Linked DNA regions of Homo sapiens: region 1 is linked to region 2. The links come from fine-mapping of genetic effects on gene expression. A gene starts in region 2. The other region holds a variant in brackets. All regions are shown on one strand. Distances are from middle to middle.

Region 1 (2,908 bases), 29 kb before region 2:
ACAATTAAATTATGACAGTGGAGTAAAAGTTCAGAGAATCTAAAGAAAAGAATATAATGAACAATGTTAAGAGGTCAAGAAATCTTTCGACATCTCCAATCCTGTACATAGGAAACTATGTTAAACACTGGACACACATTAGGTGCATGACGGATACGATCAGTCTTTTTAGATTTAACATTCTTATGAGCCAATCCAGATCGCAGGGCTCCATATTTTCCAAAATGGGACATCCTGGGGACGGGTAGGGAATACAATTCGGTATTCTCAAATTTTTGGTTGCTCTACGACAGTAACAAGTTTCAAGACTGGTGTACACTATGGCAGGCGAAAATAACTGATCACCAACTGATTTTCAGGGACCAACTGAAAACGTGGAAACTGACAAGCTGAGGGGTAGGGTTGGGGTTTCCGCATCCGGGTCAAAGACAAGGGGGCTGGAGCGACCGAGGGGCATGTTCTGTTGATAGAAGATTCTGGAGTGTGGACAGTTAAAACTTTTTGTGGGCTTCGAAGTTAACATGCGAATGTGTGTCAGTATCCGACTCTGAGTGGGCCACAGGCTGCCCTGGGTACAGGGAAACGAGGGGGGTGGGAGCCTGCGGCCAGCGTTCCAGGCCTCTGCCAGCGCCGCATCTCGACGCTACAGAGCCAAGCTCGGGGATCGGCATGAGGACCCCAGTACCAGCAGTAGCCACACCCGCCTCCCTCGGGGCTGTTTCCCGTCCTCCTCAGACCCGCTCACCGTGGGCTCCTGGCGGCCTCTGCAGCTTTTCAGCAAGCAGAGATGGTGGGCGCCACTCGCCGATCCTCACAAACCAAAACCTCGCGCGACAAAAACGAAGGCGGCCCCGGAAGTGCGTCATCACACTGACTGGTGAACCCATACACTCTCTGGATTTCTCTCTAGGACTCGTGGAGGACCCCACATCTTGGTGCTTCCCTCCTAATTCCCGTGAGGAAAAGGGCACGCTGGCGAGATAGGCTCTTGGCGTTCCTCCAGAGCCCAGTTCTGAGTTGAGGCACCTTGCTCATGACGCTGCATCATCGTACCAACCTTGAATACTGGCTTCCAGTGCCTTTATTACTGTGCTACAATAACTGCAACTACAAGTCTTACCCAGAATATGCAAGAAAATGTGAATGGTTATACGTTTTATTGATCTTGTTAAATTTAGCATTTGGATTGTTATAGCATAATGAACGAATCACACATTATACAACCAGGACTTCTCTTGAATTGCTGTAATGATTGC[A/G]CTCCTAGAATGTGATGTCTTTCAATGTTGCTGACGCCTCTCACTTCCATACATTACCACTAGCAGAGAGGATTAGCAATGGACCATGGGCAAAGTGAGAGCAGTCAGTTTACCCAAGAAATATTCATCCCCTGTCCAGCAGAGCTTAACACTGTCCCAGGAAAACAGCATGACTACATCAATCAGAGGTAAGAAAGGATACCTATCATGATGAAAAACCTGTTGAAAGCACTTAGAGGAAATAGGTGTGGCCACCCCAGAGAACTTCCTGACATGCTGTGCCAAAGCCTGTGGAGAAGGTAGAGTAACTGCTTTGATGCCAACAGCGAAGGGTGTGAAGAATAAGGGACATTTGCCCCCACCTCCATTGTCCTTGGGTGTTGTGTATCACATGCAGTATCACTGTAGGAAGACAAATGAGCACAGGCTGACACAGGGGCCCACACATGCAGCTCACATCTGCTGCAGGGGTTTGCAGTCGACCCCTCATAGCCCAGAGCCCTGAATTCACCCTGTGCCTGGCATAAGTGAGAGCCACCCAAAGTCACTGCCGTTCTGGTAGCTCAGTCTCTTTTCTTTATTTTTCAGGGTTTTTAAAAGTGTGATTCTTTTTGAAAAATCAAGAAATTCACCTTCTCACGATGTAGAAAACTGAAAAGTGCATGGCCTCACCCTTACAACAACAAAAAACAGCCAGATAATCTAAAATTTTCTCTTGAACACATCAGAAAGCTAAGATCTGGGGGCAAACGACTTAATCTAAAATCTGATGTAAGACAGGCACTTTCAAGAAGAGATGGTTGTAAGCACTTGTTTACATAGGACAGATGCCATTGGATGCCATGTAAGCTGTTAAGGAGAAATCAGCTAAAATGTTTAATGAGTTGCTGAGGTCCAAGTGTTGGCTAGCCTGAGAATATAGAGACTACAGAACTCCTGTGAACCACAGACACAAGCAGAATTTCCACCCACTTGTATATTCTTCTCTATGGACATCATCAAATGTGTGCACACACACATACACACATACAATTGAAGGTAAGGCAAGAAGAATCTTATGAAAACCTTCCCGCTAGAAAAGACATGAATCCCCATCCAGGTCCTTCTCTCCTATTTCCCCTACAGAACAAAAGCCCTAAGCCTCTGAGGATGAAAAAGCAAATCTTGTCACCCTTAGGGACTGGTTAAGATCCAGTGGAACTGAAGGGAATAAAGAGAACAAAAAGCTCTCCATTCACGAAATAGCGGTAGAATTGCATCCTGGTTCCAGACCATGGAGGTGTCCTACAGCTGAGGATAGGGCAACATCACTTAATAGACCCCACCCTTAAGTCTCAGAGACACAGTGCCTACCTAAGATTAAAGCTGAATCACAACAGAAAATGCCATCCCTTCTACCACCACCAAAATATCAAATGCTGAGTCAATAAGAACAGCAATCTACTGCTAAAAGAAGGATAAAAACATGGAGAAAGACCCCTCTCTGAGGTACAGGAATGAAGGGAAGGCCTAAAGGTAAGAGTGGTGCAAACATTGAGAAAATCTCCTTTAGCAAACCATCCCACACACTAAACTTAAGGTAATACTAGAAGAATTTGAAGCCTGTGGATAACCATAGCAACAAAAACACCTAAACACAGTTTAACTCCTGA
Region 2 (2,908 bases):
ATCAAAAGGTACTGTGGGGGTGCCTGTGGGGATTCTGGATTCTGAATGTCTACAGGAACTCTATCAGCAGAAGATTTTTGCCTCCTATGTACAAAGAGACAAGGCATCAGCCATCAATTTTCTCATGTCTCTTCATCTTTATTTCAGCAAACATTTTCTCCTCTTTTTCATGAGTCTGCAAAAGTTTTCTTGTTTCATCCTTATACCCCAAACCACATCTGTGCTCTAGGTCCCATCCTCTCTCCACAATGTGTCCTCCTTCAGAGGTCACCCACCCTTGATAACAACTATCATTTATTAAGCCTGTGCCAAGCACTTGACATATATTCTTTGTTATGTCTCATAGCCTACTATCAGATCCGTTTTTTAGAAGAGGAAACTGAGACTCGGAGGGATTAACTTCCCCCAAAGTTCCAGAACTGAGACAGAACCCAGGCCTGTTTGACTCTGGCTCTTGCCTGTTATGCCACACTGCCTTCCGTCCCCATTCCTGCCATCCCTGCTGCCCCTGTATAGGACTCTTCCTCCTTTGTCCTCCCCAGTCACTGCCACCAGCCACAGAGGCAGCTAGGGCTCCTCAGAACATTCAGGTTGCTCTGAACACTGTACTCAACAGGGCAGATCCTCGTTGTGACTTTACTCCCTGCACCCCCACCACCCGCAACACTCTCACAAAGATCCCACCTCACTTGCTTACCCACGTCCCAATCTCCATGTCCCCATTTTCTATATCTCTAGGAGTCTCAGCTCCTGCACCTTCTTTCTCTCATCCTCTTAAGAAACAAATACTGCTGACCTCCAGCCGTTGGGACTTCCCGTAATTCTCAGCCACTGCCTCCTTCAGGGTCTCAGTCTCCACACTGTGGAGGAGCCCATTCTGGTCCACTGCACTTCAGTCCTTGCGCACTAGAAAGTCTCCACAGCTATTTATCCAGCACTCCAGGGCTCCAAGGCTTTGGCTGGCTCAACTTTGTCTGCCTAATAGAGTCCACATTCCTCTGCACTACAGACAATTCCATTCACTACTCACAGACCCAGCTTTCCTGGCCAGGATCATCAGCCACCACCACTCTCATCTCCGATCCTCTCACCATTGCATTGGGAAACCAAACTCTTTCCTCACCCTGTTCTGTGTCCTTGCACCTGCGGCTACTCTTGCCTGAATATCCAGTTCTTCCTTCCTGCTCCTGCATTGCAAATTCCTTTTCAACCTAATACCCAGCTCAAACATAACCAGCTCTGTAAAGGCAGCTCTGAAATTCTGGCCATTCATCGCCCCCGACAGCACTCTGTGCGCTCTGCCCCAGCAGTCGGCTCAACCCCGTGCCGCTGCACGTCTGCTCTCCTTGAGGCTCAGGTCCAGGGGTGTCGACTCCGCTGTGCTGCCTGTCCCTCGAGGCCCCTCACTCTGGGTTGTACCCCCATTTCCCAGCCGCCGCACCACCCCGTCTCCGGGCCTAGAACCCAGGGCAGGGCCAAGACTGCTTCCAGGCTCCGGCCCCGCACTCACCCGGCGCGCCCGGGGCAGCGCGGGCTGTCCCGGGAGCAGCTCGAGGACAAGGCCGAGGCGTGTCCCGCTCGCCAGCGCCACGGCCGCCATAGCCCAGGTCGCCCTCTGGGAAAGCGAGGGCGCGCCAGACCGGACCAGAGGCTGTTGGGGTCGCGGAAGAGCGCTCTGCACCTGGGCAGGCCTGACACGGCTACCCTGCGCCCTGCAGCCACCGGAGTAAGACCCCGACTCCACTCCCTGCCCGCCCCACGCCCGACTCCCCGTGCTCCACACCCGCCAGGCCCCAGCATCCGGGAGGCCGGGGCTCGGGCCGCTCCGGTTGCTCTAGGACGGCGGAGGGCGCCGCATCTCTGTGGTCCTCCTTTCTCGCTCGGGGAGGGAGGGGAGAGCGGTCCGGTTCTCCTGGAGACACGGACGATCCCAGGGACCGCTACCGGGGTAGGGGTGCAGGCGGCTGGGGAGGAATCCTTCCCCTGCGCTCTAGGCCACCCCTTCCTCTCCAGCTCGCTGCACCCTAGGTGGACAGATATTTGCTGATAGGAGGTAGCGGGTACTTCACTAGACTGCACCTGCTCTTTTATCTCTCCTTTTACCAGTTTTTGCATTCCCAGAGCAGACCTGTATTTTATGTCTTTTAACATTCTCATCTTTGTGCCTCTAACATGCGCCCGATGTCTAGCACCTCCTGGGGAGTTATTTCTTTAACTGCCAAGGAATATTTGTAGAATTGTCCACGAAAAGTCAAACTGTAAAATATTTGAAGGGATTTATCCTGAGCCAAATATGAGTGACCATGGCCCGTGCCACAGCCCCAGGAGATCCTGAGAACATGTGCCCAACGTGGTCGGGCTACAACTTGGTTTTACACATTTTAGGAAGACATAAGACATCAATTAATACATGTAAGATGTACGTTGGTTCGGTATGGAAAGGTGGGACAACTGGAAGAGGAGGCTTTCAGGACATAGGTGGATTCAAAGATTTTCTGAGTGGCAATTGGTTGAAAGAGTTAAGTTATTGTATAAAGACTTAGAATCAATAGAAAGGGATGTCTCAGTTAAGATAAGGGCTTGTGGAGACCAAAGTTTTATCATGCAGATGGAGCCTGTAGCAGGCTTCAGAGAATAGACTGCAAATGTTTCTCATCATTATCACACTACCGGATAGTCTGTGAGACTTAAAGAGGCTGTTCTATCAGTCTTAAGGTCTGTGTTGATGTTAATGCTGGTCAGCTGGTCCTGAATTTCAAAAGGTAGGGGAGCATAATGAGCCATGTCCAACTCCTCCTTCCCATTATGGCCTGAACCAGTTTTTCACGTTAACTTTGGAATGCCCTTAGCCAAGAGGAGAGATCCATTCATATGGTCAGAGGGCTTTGAATTTTATTTTTGGCTTACG

What was found. PIP is the estimated chance that this variant, and not a neighbour inherited with it, causes the effect. A credible set is the group of variants that fine-mapping cannot tell apart.
Region 1: its variant is the best candidate, but not a certain one, in a credible set for the expression of ZNF662 in whole blood (TOPMed, PIP 0.86).

The regions. Positions count from the first base shown.
Region 1 is chr3:42,934,293-42,937,200 of GRCh38, reverse strand. KRABD1 (KRAB domain containing 1) reads right to left here and starts at 815. Exons shown (of 5, transcript NM_001205272.2): 1 at 746-815. It overlaps KRABD1-AS1 (KRABD1 antisense RNA 1), which reads left to right and starts at 416. Exons shown (of 2, transcript NR_122033.1): 1 at 416-1,444; 2 at 1,845-2,908. The variant A/G (reference allele first, on the strand shown) is at 1,257.
Region 2 is chr3:42,905,044-42,907,951 of GRCh38, reverse strand. It overlaps ZNF662 (zinc finger protein 662), which reads right to left and starts at 1,810. Exons shown (of 5, transcript NM_207404.4): 1 at 1,784-1,810.